4 separate regions of the Homo sapiens genome follow, and regions 2, 3 and 4 are each reported to be linked to region 1. Evidence: microRNA targets listed by miRTarBase, many of them from high-throughput screens and not tested one by one. Region 1 holds a microRNA gene; each other region holds the end of a gene's coding sequence.

Region 1 (3,000 bases):
CTTTCAGAGGGTTACGGTTTGAGAAAAGCAACGTTGAAGTTGACGCTGATCTTGGTAATACATTTGCAGAGCGTGCTGATCATCAGACGTGGATAATGGTGGGGTTTTGTTTTTTATCTAAGACAGGGTGTCTGTTCCCCAGGCTGGAGTGCGGTGGCACTTCCAACTTAGATCTCTTGGGTTCAAGTGGCCCTCTTTTTGGGACAGAGTCTCACTCTGTGGCCCTGGCTGGAGTGCAGTGGCAGGAACTTGGCTCACTGCAATCTCTGCCTCCTGGGTTCAAGCAATTCTCCTGCCTCAGCCTCCGGAGCAGCTGGGGTTACAGGCTGTGCCACCATGCCCAGCTAACTTTTGCATTTTTATTATTGATTTATTGATTTATTTTTGAGACAGGGTCTGGCTCTGTCACCCAGGCTATAGGGCAGTGGTGCGATCTCGGCTCACTGCAACCTCCACCTCCCACCTCAGCCTCCTGAATACCTGTCTCCAGGCATGCACTACCACACCTGCCTAACTTTTGTATTTTTTGTATAGATGAGGTTTCACCATGTTGCCCAGGCTGGTCTCGGACCCTTGAGCTCAATTGCTCCTCCCGCCTGGGCCTCCAAAACTGCTGTGATTAATGGTGTGAGCAAGCGTGCCCTACTCTTGTGTGTTTCTGCTCAAATTTTATGGAGGAGCTTTTACATCCCAGCCTGTGGTCTATCCTGGAGAATGTTTGTGTGTGTGACAATGTATATTCTTCAACATTTTAGATTCCATTTGGATGCTCCCATCCGGACTGTGTGCCCCTGTACTGGAACTCAAGTGAACACTTGGCTCAACATCCATTGCTGTTCTCATGAATTCCAGGCCAATTGTCTTGGTTAAAGACAAGGTATGTGGGCTGGGCGTGGTGGCTCATGCCTGTAATCCCAGCACTTTGGGAGACCGAGGTGGGAGGATCACGAGGTCAGGAGTTCGAGACAAGCCTGACCAACACGGTGAAACCCATCTCTACTAAAAATACAAAAATTAGCTGGGCGTGGTGGCTCCACCAGTAATCTCAGCTACTTGGGAGGCTGAGGCAGGAGAATTGCTTGAACCCAGGAAGCGGAGGTTGCAGTGAGCTGAGATCGCGCCACTGCACTCCAGCCTGGGTGACAGAGCGAGACTTCATCTCAAAAAATAAAAAATAAAAAGGTATGTGTAGTAGGCATTGCTTTTTCTCTTTGTAGATAATACTCAGGAGGACTGCCTCTTGAACAAGGCTAACCTGCTGAGCCTTTGAAGCAAGGAACTGGAGATGGTCCTTTTAGGGGGTTATGTTCTGGATTCCAGAAAACATGCAAATAGGGACAATGAATGCATCTTTATTTTTCTGTCCATTTTAACCTGGTCAAGGAAAATTTCAACAAGAAACCCAGAGTGCTGGAGCAAGAAGATCTCAAGCTGTGAGTCTACAAAGGAAAGCGCTTTCTGTTGTCTGAAAGAAAAGAAATCGCTTCCCTTTGGAGTGTTACGGTTTGAGAAAAGCAGCGTTGAAGTTGATGCTGATCTCGGTAATACATTTGCAGAGCATGCTTATCACACTTGGACGGTGGCGGGGTTCTGTTTTGGTTTTGCTTTGTTATTCTAAAACAGGGTCTGTGTTGCCCATGCTGGAGTGCGGTGGCACATCCCACCTAGGTCTCTTGGATTTAAATGGTCCTTTTTGGGGGCCAGAGTCTCTCTCTGTCACCGAGGCTGAAGTGCAGTCATCCCATCTTGGCTCACTACAACCTCCGCCTCCCAGGTTCAAGCAATTCTCCTGCTTCAGCTTCCCAAGTAGCTGAGATTTACAGGCGCCCATCCCCACACCTGGATAATATTTGGGTTTTTTTTTTATTTATTTTTAAGATGGGGTCTCACCGTCACCCAGGCTGTAGTTCAGTGGCTTGATCTCGGCTTACTGCAATGTATGCCACCCAGGATCAAGTGATTCTCCTGCCCCAGACTCCTGAGTAGCTGGAATTACACGCACCTGCCACTACACCCGGCTACTTTTTGAATTTTTTTTTTTTTTTTTAAAGTAAAGATGGGCTTTCACCATGTTGGCCAGGCTGGTCTCAAACCCCTGACCTCAAGTCAGCTGCTTGCCTCAGCCTCCCAAAGTGCTGAGAATACAAACATGAGCCACTGCGTGGCCATCAACACCTCTTACTTTATGGAAATTTTTCTGGCACTGGTATAGAACCTCACGTGGGGTCAGGTGGAGTTGAGGGGACCTCAGTTTCCCTTGCAGATGGGATGTGCACTGCTCAGCAAGAGCACAGAGGTGGAGTGCATGGGGCTTCAGTGTTTATTGGGGAAATGAAGCTAAAATCTTCGGTGTGTGACCAGGAGATAAATGCATGAGATGGGGATCTCACTATGCTGCCCAGGCTGAAGTGGGCTTAGATCCTCCTGCCTCTGCCCCTCCCCAGTCCTTGGTACATGGGACTACATGTGAATATTAACCCCCCATGCACAGACAAGAAGAAAGTAAGGACTGTTCTTTGGTTCATACCTGACCCCAGTTAAACATGTATTTTAGATAAACAATGTATTTGAAATGTACTTGAACAACAAATGATTTGCTGTTTAGGTGTGGGCATCTTTTTTTTTCTTCCTAACTTTAAATATGGGACTAGTCCAGGTACGGTGGCTCATGCCTGTAATTCCAGCACTTTGGGAGGCGGAGACAGGAGGATCACCTGAGGTCAGTTGTTCGAGACCAGACTGGCCAACATGGTGAAACCTCGTCTGTACTAAAAATAAAAAAATTAGTGAGACGTGGTCTTGGTGCATGCCTGTAATCCCAGCTACTCGGGTGGATGAGGCAGGAGAATTGCTTGAGGCTGGGAGGCTGAGCTTTCAGTGAGCTGAGATCAAGCCTCTGCACTCCAGCCTGGGCAACAGAGTGAGACTGAGTCTCAAAAAAGTAAAAAATCAGCTGGGTGCGCTGGCAAACACTTGTAATCCCAGCACTTTGGGAGGCCG
Region 2 (3,189 bases), not on the chromosome of region 1:
AATCAAATTATATTCTAGGAATATAGTTATTTCTGAAACATTTTAAGAAGAACCTAATGTCTATAGCTTCTGACTTAAAAATTCTATCTTAGGAATCTCTGAAGGACATCAAAATCACATAATTTTTAATTGAGAAATAGTAGACACAACCTAAATCTCCAATTAAGTAAACTGTGGTACAAGCAGACAGTGAAATATCATCCTGCCACTAAAAATGGTTTCTGAAAAATAATGATGTGGGAAAATACAAATAATTAAATGAAATAAAAAGAATTACTAAGTTTGATCTCAAGAAACACTAGAAAATATCCTTCATATGGCTCTGAGTGTTGGAATTGTGGTGATGTTTCTGTATACATTTCTAAATTTTTCGAGTTTTCTACAATATGCCTATATTATATAGAATTTCCTAAGATGAATTAAAAATAAAAAAGGCTAAAGCATAGAATAACCTTCCCCAAACACACAAGGATTTTAAATGAATTGAAATTTCCTCATACTAGTAATTTTGTGCTTTTTTTTTACAGATCAACTGGTGAGACTGCAGTCAGTGCTTTTGAGATTGACAAGATGTACACCCCCTTGTTCTTCGCCAGAGTAAGGAGCTACACAGCTTTCTCAGAAAGGCCTCTGTAGAGCCTCAAGTCCAGTCCTCTATCACTTTTGCATGAATTAAAGTATATAGCGCAAAAGAGCACCTAAGTTATAAATGTGTGTGTGTGCGTGTGTGTGTATATATATATATATATATATATATATATATATATATATATATATATATGGAATTGGAACTTATTTTAAATTGTTGGAGTTCTTTTAAGAAGAATATAAATTGATTATTTTTTTTATTTAAAGGGATAGTTGATTCCTGGGGTGTTTTGAAATTAAGTTGGAATTAAGTTGCTTAAGCATATTTATGTTGTGAGAAACCTTAATATGAGGTTTATCATGCCCTTTTTCAAGCAGATTTATGAGCAGATTTCTGTCACATAAGTCGTCTTCTGCTTGAGTATCCTAATATTTCAATGCATCAGGGGAGCGCTCCACTGGATAAGCATTTTATTTCCCGCATGGCATAATGTTTTTGCACTAAAGGCTCAAAGTGTGAGAACCTGTTCTGGATTTGTTTGAAATTATTTCACCAATAAAGATCATAAATAAATGTTTCTTTCAAGAAAATATATTTGGATGGCCTTTTTAAAGTAACAGGATATTTAATAAGAGTCCTAGATAGCCAGCGGAGACTTTAAGAATCATTGCCTCTAGCTGGGTGTGGTGGCATGCACCTGTAGTCCCAGCTATTTGGGAGGCTGATGCAGGAGAATAGCTTAAGCCCAGGAATTTGAGTCTGGGAGTTTGAGTCCAGCATGGGCAACATAACAAGACCCCATCCCTTATTAAAAGAAAAAAAAATAATTCCTCATTTCATCATTGGTCTTTATATGTAGCCACAAACACTGACCTCATGTAGGCACCTTACCAATATATGACATTAAGTGAGAGTGAATCCCTTAGGACTGGAACACTTCAAGCTCAACCAACTGACTCAGTTGTCATTCTTCACAAAAGAATAGTAGAGGATCATGTAAACCTGAGCCTAACTCTTGTTCCAGTATGAAAGTTGGGGGAGAGCACCAGCCACCTAGGAAAACTGTATGTTACCTTTTTACTCAAAGGAGTCCCCCCTGCCCAGTAACAGTCCTATTAGTGTTTAATTTCAGAGTTTGTGTCTGGTAGACCTCTACCTGATTCAGATTTGGTTTTGTTGTTTCAACCATAGTTAGAGACAAATTCTCATGTACTTTCAGAAATCAATATCTGCAGCCACTGTTACTTTTAATTGACATTAAGAGACACTTCATAGGTTCCCACAATTCAGTATGGGATAGGCTTTTTAAAAAGCACATACAGACCAGGCGTGGTGGCTCATGCCTATAATCCCAGCACTTTGGGAGGCTAAGACAGGCAGATCACCTGAGCTCAGGAGTCCAAGACCAGCCTGGGCAACATGGCAAAACACCGTCTCTACAAAAAAAAAAAAAAAAAAAATTAGCCAAGTACAGTGGGGCACACCTATAGTCGCAGCTACTTGGGAGGCTGGGGCAGGAGAATTGCCTGAGCCTGGGAAGTGGAAGTTGCAGTGAGCCAAGATCGTGCCATTCCACTCCAGCCTGAGCAACACAGTGAGACCCTATCTCAAAAAAATAATGATGATAGTACACGTTATGTTAAAGGTGAAATGTGCATACAGAAGGAAGAGAGTTGGCCAGGTGTGGTGACTCACACCTATAATCCCAATACTTTGGGAGGCCAAGGCAGGAGGATTGCTTGAGGTCAGGAGTTTTAGACCAGCCTGGACAACATAGCAAGACCTCATCTCTTCTAAAAATTAAAAAAAAAAAAAATAGGCATGGTGGTACACACCTGTGGTCCCAGCTAGTTGGGAGGCTAAGGCAGGAGGATCACTTAGCCAGGAGGCTGAGGCTACAGTGAGCCAAGATTGCACCACTGTGCTCCAGCCTGGGTGAGAAAGCGAGACCCTGTCTCAAAAAAGAAAAAAAAGAGAGGTTGGCCTTTTGTAGCAATCTGAGAAGTGTGTTTTTCAAGTTGGAAAGGAAGGAGAAAAGCAACTTGCCTAAGATAAGGTAGCTCTTCATGATATGACTGTTATTTCTGATATACAAATAAATAGAACATGATTAGGACATAGTCAAATATAGCTAGAAAAATATATTCCTAAGGAAAGTGAGATTTGAGGAGTCCCTGTTGTTCTGCAACATCCCTAGATTGAATGATCTGTTGCAGATGGTGGATACCAAGTTCAAATTTAAAGATTTCTTTGTAAGCAGTAAAGTGACTTTCACTTATTTAACTTAGAACTGGAAAAAGTAACTTTTTTCCAGATTACATTTTCTGTATATTTGTAAAATGCAAAAGCAATATATATTTGTTGTGAGAAAATTAGAATATACAGATAAAATAAAATTTAAAAAAACACCCAAAGATAACCAGAAGAAAATTTTTGCTATGTAACCTTTTTCTTCTGGTCTTTGCAAATCCTGCCGTAGAAACTTTTTAACTTCAGGAGTGTCCTTCCTTTGCTCTATTAGGACATTACAGAAACCAATACTATGAAAAGCTGACAGCAGTATCTGGATTAACTTTTTAAAAACAATGAAAGCATTTTAC
Region 3 (3,189 bases), not on the chromosome of region 1:
AGTCTATGCAACACAGCTACTGGAGAAGAAAGATAAATCCAAATTATTGCATGCAATTTAAATTCACTCTAAAGAGACAGCAAACTTTTTTTTTCCTTTAGGAAAGCTTAGAGAAACCAAAATTAGAATACAATTTCCAAAACTGCTTTGCAAAAAACAAAAAAAACTTGTCCCACTTATGGAATTTGTCATCTACTCTGTATTATCTGAGACTTGGCACATTCAAGAACAAAATCATCACATCTCTGATTCACATAGCAATGAAAGATCACACACTAAACACCTTAACAGGCCATGAAAAGATTGTTTTATTCCATGTAAATATTCTCAACAGAGAACACTATCTTTAAATGAAGGATTTACCATTAAGAAATCAACATGTGCACAAAAAGAGTAAAAATTACCAAAAAATTAAAGATTTTTTGGGACAATTCACATGTTCAAAATTTAAGAATGATTTAAACTGTGCAAGTACAAATGTCTTTCCTATTATAATAACCCATATACAGGTTGCACTATTCCACATCAAGGAACTTGCCTCCTACGGAAGCAAATCCTGCTTTTAGAAAAACAAACAGTAGCTTGAAAAGAACAGTTAGTCCTTACAAGAAAGTCTTAAACTTTGCCCTCTGTGGCTGTTAGCCAAAAAACCATAAGCACTTCAGGCTTTGTACAGAAGACAAACACAGCCAGATCACATTTCCTCCTCATTGCTAACCTTTAAAATAAAAATAGCACTAGATTTTAAAACTACTTCATGTAGTCTGTCAGTACTGAATAATGTCACATTATATAAATAACCCTGTAACGAGATTCAATATCTAAACTTTATAGTTTACTAGCTGCAAAGGTAATACACTATATGTCAGCTGTGTAACAGTGGTGACTTGATCTTATGAAGGCAGTAACTTTCACACAATTGTCATTCAGCTTTAGTATAACGGGTAGTATGATTCAAATAACACTGGGAAAAAGTTATTAAAGCAGTCACACAGCTTCTAAAATATTGCTTAAAATTCAATAATACACAAACCATTTCACGTTCTTTCTCCCCTCAAAACAGTAAAGAACCAAATTAATGAAGATTCAGTGGTACAAATAACCCCCCACCTGCCCCATCTCCCTATTACAACACCACTAAGAAATTAGTTAAGATACATGTCATTAACAGAATCACAAATGCGAGGCAGGACACCATGAGCAACAGGAGCACTAACAACAATCATATTTACAAGTATAAACATACAGAAATTCCATTTTACAAGTAAAAGTGCACATAGATCATTACAAAGTTTCACTAAATTTTATCAGGTTCAAACAAAAGCATCACGTGGAAAGAGACTATCATTGTAATTATCAAACATGATCGTCATAACCCAAAATAAAAAGACAATTGGGGGAGGCCCATAAAACTTCTCATAAAACCACTGAGGAAATTAAAATGGACTTGGACATGTCTTTAGTTTGATGCATAAATTTGAAGATGCACCACTGTATATGGTAGAGCTCTAATAGCCACCTACCGAGGCTACATCGGCAGCTGCAGCGGTGCTGCAGAGTTAAAGCAGGTCGCACTGAGCTGACACATAAAGCCCTTTGTGGGATACTGTAGTGGTAGTGTTGGCAATCAACAGATTTAGGCACTCAAGTTTAAGGCAGCATTTGAATGGAAGCAGCTGACTTTTGACAATAGTCCTTTGTCTTGAGGTGGTGAATATCTTCTGTGTTTATTATGCCAGGATTTCAGTGCTGACTAGATTCTTCCCAGACTGAGGTGCTGAAGATGTATCACGTTTCAAAGAGTTCTTTCAACTGGGCTGTAGGCTACAGCAGAGATGTTTTCTTTTTCTTATCATAAATACTTCAGGTTCACAGCTACTTCTTCGTAATGCCAAAACTGGAATGTTTGCAGTGGGGAAGTTATAGCAGTGTGCACAAATACTAAGATGGAAACATTAGTGCTGGAGATGTTTGACAAAGTGATTTGCACTACAAATGTAAAACAAAACAAGGCTTTGACAAGAACAAGGGAATCTAAAGACATGCCTGAAAAATCTAGCTCAATCACGCTAGACATGCAACAGGATGTTAAGCAAGCACGGAGGTGGCGCAGGCAGACACTGACAGATGGCAAGGATCTGACAGATAGTGGGTCTAAAAGCCAATTAAAACAGAGCTGGGAGGGAAGACAATCCTGTTGGGACAGCTAATGTAAGACACATTTTTTGACAGCTCTGCATTCTTTATTGATTAGACAGCAATAAAATAAATAGAAAAATGGTACACTATTGTTGGCTTTTTCTTTTGTGGGAATAACTGTGAACTAGGAACTTAAGGGTTGGTATTATGATTTTTAAAAACAATGTATGGAAATGCTAATGAAGTTAGTAAAAAAAAAATCATGTCTGCATGCACTCATGCAACTTGCTTCTCTCACTCTCTTTGAGCCTGACAACTCTAATACCCTCCCCCAAAAGCAGCTGCATGTAACCTCCTTCAACATCTTGCCCATTTCCTCAGAAACCCTCTTCAGGAACCTGCAGTCCAGGAGGAAAAAGAAAAGAACAATTACTGAAGACCTTTGGTAAAACCAAAAGGGGTGTTCAGTTTAAAGTGCCTGTCCCAAATGTCTCTATCATTTTATAGTCAGCTACCGAAAACACCAGGAAAATTTAAAACATGGGCAAAATTAAAAACCAATCTTACTGCTTCTTCACACTTTACTTCCCCACACCACTGACTCAGGGTGTGGTCACACAACCAGCACTGCACAATCCTTGACTGCACAGTGTTTCCAACAACGCTTGCTGAAACTAATTGGAAAAATTTATCTATCCTAATAACTAATGATTCAGCGGAAATAACAAAATGCCCTAAAGGCGGTACACATATCTTCCTCTAACCCAGATAGTCAAAAAGTTTCTCCTTTAAAAATTAAAATTTGTCAACACTTCCCCTCCATTCAAGGTTTCCTCTATCTTCAAATGTGTATTTTTCTATGTAACTGTGTATTTTCCTATGTGTAACTGCTAAATGCTAAATAATCACTAAAGTGGTATTTCCCAAAAGATATTTTCAAGATGAAACATACAAAAGTATGAGATTAGTTTGGAAGGAAGCTTGTAAATTATTGAAAATTACCAGCTAACCTCAAAATATTTTGAGGTCTCAAACAAAATCTATTTTATT
Region 4 (3,189 bases), not on the chromosome of region 1:
CCCCACCTCCCTCCCGGATGAGGCGGCTGGCCGGGCGGGGGGCTGACCCCCCCCACCTCCCTCCCAGACGGGGTGGCTGCCGGGCGGAGACGCTCCTCACTTCCCAGATGGGGTGGCTGCCGGGCGGAGGGGCTCCTCACTTCTCAGACGGGGTGGTTGCCAGGCAGAGGGTCTCCTCACTTCTCAGACGGGGCGGCCGGGCAGAGACGCTCCTCACCTCCCAGACGGGGTCTCGGCCGGGCAGAGGCGCTCCCCACATCTCAGACGATAGGCGGCCGGGCAGAGAGGCTCCTCACTTCCTAGATGTGATGGCGGCTGGGAAGAGGCGCTCCTCACTTCCTAGATGGGATGGCGGCCGGGCAGAGACGCTCCTCACTTTCCAGACTGGGCAGCCAGGCAGAGGGGCTCCTCACATCCCAGACGATGGGCGGCCAGGCAGAGACACTCCTCACTTCCCAGACGGGGTGGCGGCCGGGCAGAGGCTGCAATCTCGGCACTTTGGGAGGCCAAGGCAGGCGGCTGGGAGGTGTAGGTTGTAGTGAGCCGAGATCACGCCACTGCACTCCAGCCTGGGCACCATTGAGCACTGAGTGAACGAGACTCCGTCTGCAATCCCGGCACCTCGGGAGGCCGAGGTTGGCGGATCACTCGCGGTTAGGGGCTGGAGACCGGCCCGGCCAACACAGCGAAACCCCGTCTCCACCAAAACCAGTCAGGCGTGGCGGCGCGTGCCTGCAATCGCAGGCATTCGGCAGACTGAGGCAGGAGAATCAGGCAGGGAGGCTGCAGTGAGCCGAGATGGCAGCAGTACAGTCCAGCTTCCGCTCCGCATGAGAGGGAGACCGTGGGGAGAGGGAGAGGGGGAGGGGGAGGGGGAGGGGGAGAGGGAGACACTCATTTTTACAGACCCTGTGGGGAAGTCAACTCTTTGCACAGCTGATGTTATGAATTTCTGTTCTTCAGAAGGTTGCTCCTCCTACGAGTCTGCACTTGACCCAAGGATCTGGAACCTAGCTGGCATCTTCATCTCAAAGCCACATGTAAGTCTCACAAACACAGTATACTTACTGCAAATGAGATTCCGTATGCAGGCATATTCCTTCAATTCAAATTCTTGCTGAAATCCCTCCTAAACTTACTTACCTTTAGCTTCCGTTTGCTCCTGTGTCACCAAGCTATGGCTCAAATGCACAGAGCTCTAACTGCAGGGTGGGTGATAGGGCTTATGCAAACGCCCTAAAGCCCCGTCTCCCGTCATGAGGTCTCCTGATGAAGGGCACCAAGCACTTCCGAACCAACGCTGCTTTGTGAGGCTTCAGTCTGGGGACTACATTCTCTCATTAGAATTTCCACACTCATTTAGGGCATCTTTATTTGTAATATAATGGGGATGGAGCATTGCCTCCCAAGCCCAGTGACTGTGCCTTTAGCAAACATTTCCAGATGGCAGTGGCAATCAGTGACTGAGAGACAAATTCACAGCCTGCACCCAAATGACAAAAGTTACGTTTAATTTACAATGTAATAAAGGTTACAGGTAAAAAGCTACACATAAAGCATGAAAAGGCCTATTACACAAATGTACAAATCTCTGTACAAAGCTTGTATCAATGTTTCCTAACTTTGTCTCCTATGTTTGTTAGCCAGGTCTAGTCTTGGAGCTCTGAATAACAAGAGCTCTCAATTGAGGGGGGAAAGAGCCTCCAAACTGACATCTAAAAATTCCTCTTAGAGACACCAGTTACTTCCAAACAAATCTTTTCCTTTTTAATTTGAATTACCCCAACTGGTCATATCCTTTGAAAACTGCCTTCATAATACACTTAAAAGTAATGCCTTAGAGTAGAGGACAGTACTCTGGAATTAAATAAGAAACTTCAGCAGGAGGAGTGCTCAGGTTTGACAAGAAAAACAGGTAAATTTCAAACAATACTGTAAGTTAAAACTATAAACCTGTGTCTATGGCACCAGTCACAGATGAAGGAAAATCGAAATGTTTTCATTCCAACAGGAAGGACAAAAGAGAAAAGCCTAGCTACTGGACCTCAAAACCACTGACCCAAGGAAACATTTTTTAGTTTAAACCTCAGCTTAACTGCAGAATTCTAAGCCTTCTTTTTGATCAAACTGAGATCTATGGCAACCCTTCTGCTACCCGGGACTTGGAAGGATAGTGAATATAAATTAGGCTCTGGACCCCCAAGGCTGGTGATGCTACTGTAACCTCTACAGCTCTGGATTCAACCTGAGGGCCTGGGATATGTGACTTTACATAAAAATGATCCTAGAAAGTGGGAGAAAGAAAGGAGGTAGTGGAAGGCCTAGGAAAGAGCCAGGGCAGTCTATTGAAAAGGATATAAGAAGCCTTTCTCTACAATGCAAGTGTTGTGAAGACAGGTCTTTATGGGCTATTTCAACCCCACCCCCAATTGTCATATTACATGGTTAGGATGCCAGGAGACATTCTGAAAGACGATACCGCACACATGGAAAGTTTTTCTCCCTAGTTCATTAGCTCCCCATCACCCTTCCACCCCATTCCCACCCAATCCCACCCTTCTCCATGACCAAAAATATCAAATCAGCAAGGAAGGTGTGGGCTTCTTGCCTGGCCAAGCCTCTTTTGCATATTTCTTCTTCTTGGGTTCATTTACAGCTTCAGGGTTATAGACTGCAGGGTTTGGTGCAGGGTTCATGTTCACTGCTGACGGCACAACAGGAGTCAAGTCCACATCAGGGGCAAGGTTTGGGTATGGCATGGGCAAGCCACCGATGAGTGCTGTCCCATGGATGCCATGTGGCTGGGAGCCTGCTTCACTGTGTGTGGGGGGCAGGCCCCCGTAGAGTCCTCCGCTGAAGGCAAAGTTCTGCATGCGCCTGCTCCCTGATTCCTCCAGGCCCAGGGAGCCAGGGCCCTCCACACGCTTCTTCTACAGTTCACGATGAGGAGAGGGGAGAGATTGGAGAGAGAAGACAAGAGGTGAGGCCCAAGAGTGGTTAGCTTTTTCTATTCCAGCCTTAAAAAAATGGCTTTTGGGAAAGATTCCTAACTTCTAGCCTGTTCTCCTTTCCAGACAACCTATTTCATGATGTTGAAATCTTACGGTTTGAAGAGACCTTTCCAGTCATCTACGATGGTTCCCAAACACTGCTCCATAACAAAGTTTTCACCATCCTACATCAGCCAAG

The links. The annotated mature microRNA hsa-miR-1283 reads UCUACAAAGGAAAGCGCUUUCU and lies in region 1 at 1,439-1,460, shown strand. An mRNA with a match to its seed (bases 2 to 7 or 8) in the 3' UTR can be bound and repressed. Matches are read on the target gene's strand: a 7mer-m8 pairs with bases 2 to 8, a 7mer-A1 pairs with bases 2 to 7 and ends in A, and an 8mer does both.
Region 2: the mRNA of FBXO9 is a reported target of hsa-miR-1283. Seed matches in the 3' UTR shown: 7mer-m8 at 2,576-2,582.
Region 3: the mRNA of FNBP1L is a reported target of hsa-miR-1283. Seed matches in the 3' UTR shown: 7mer-m8 at 1,990-1,996.
Region 4: miRTarBase lists PPP1R8 as a target of hsa-miR-1283. Seed matches in the 3' UTR shown: 7mer-A1 at 2,371-2,377.

The regions. Positions count from the first base shown.
Region 1 is chr19:53,756,807-53,759,806 of GRCh38, forward strand. It overlaps MIR1283-2 (microRNA 1283-2), which reads left to right and starts at 1,426; the gene lies at 1,426-1,512. It overlaps MIR516A1 (microRNA 516a-1), which reads left to right; the gene lies at 1-24. LOC124904766 (a long non-coding RNA gene) reads left to right here. Exons shown (of 2, transcript XR_007067335.1): 1 at 1-877.
Region 2 is chr6:53,097,195-53,100,383 of GRCh38, forward strand. FBXO9 (F-box protein 9) reads left to right here. Exons shown (of 13, transcript NM_033480.3): 13 at 528-3,189. The coding sequence ends at 636. Among named protein-coding and RNA genes, the nearest start is that of FBXO9, 33 kb to the left of the region's middle.
Region 3 is chr1:93,551,757-93,554,945 of GRCh38, reverse strand. FNBP1L (formin binding protein 1 like) reads right to left here. Exons shown (of 17, transcript NM_001164473.3): 17 at 285-2,537. The coding sequence ends at 2,530. Among named protein-coding and RNA genes, the nearest start is that of TRC-GCA7-1, 37 kb to the right of the region's middle. RefSeq lists an enhancer at 1,404-1,932 and a silencer at 1,980-2,274.
Region 4 is chr1:27,849,834-27,853,022 of GRCh38, reverse strand. It overlaps PPP1R8 (protein phosphatase 1 regulatory subunit 8), which reads right to left. Exons shown (of 7, transcript NM_014110.5): 7 at 1,347-2,930. The coding sequence ends at 2,577. Among named protein-coding and RNA genes, the nearest start is that of PPP1R8, 21 kb to the right of the region's middle.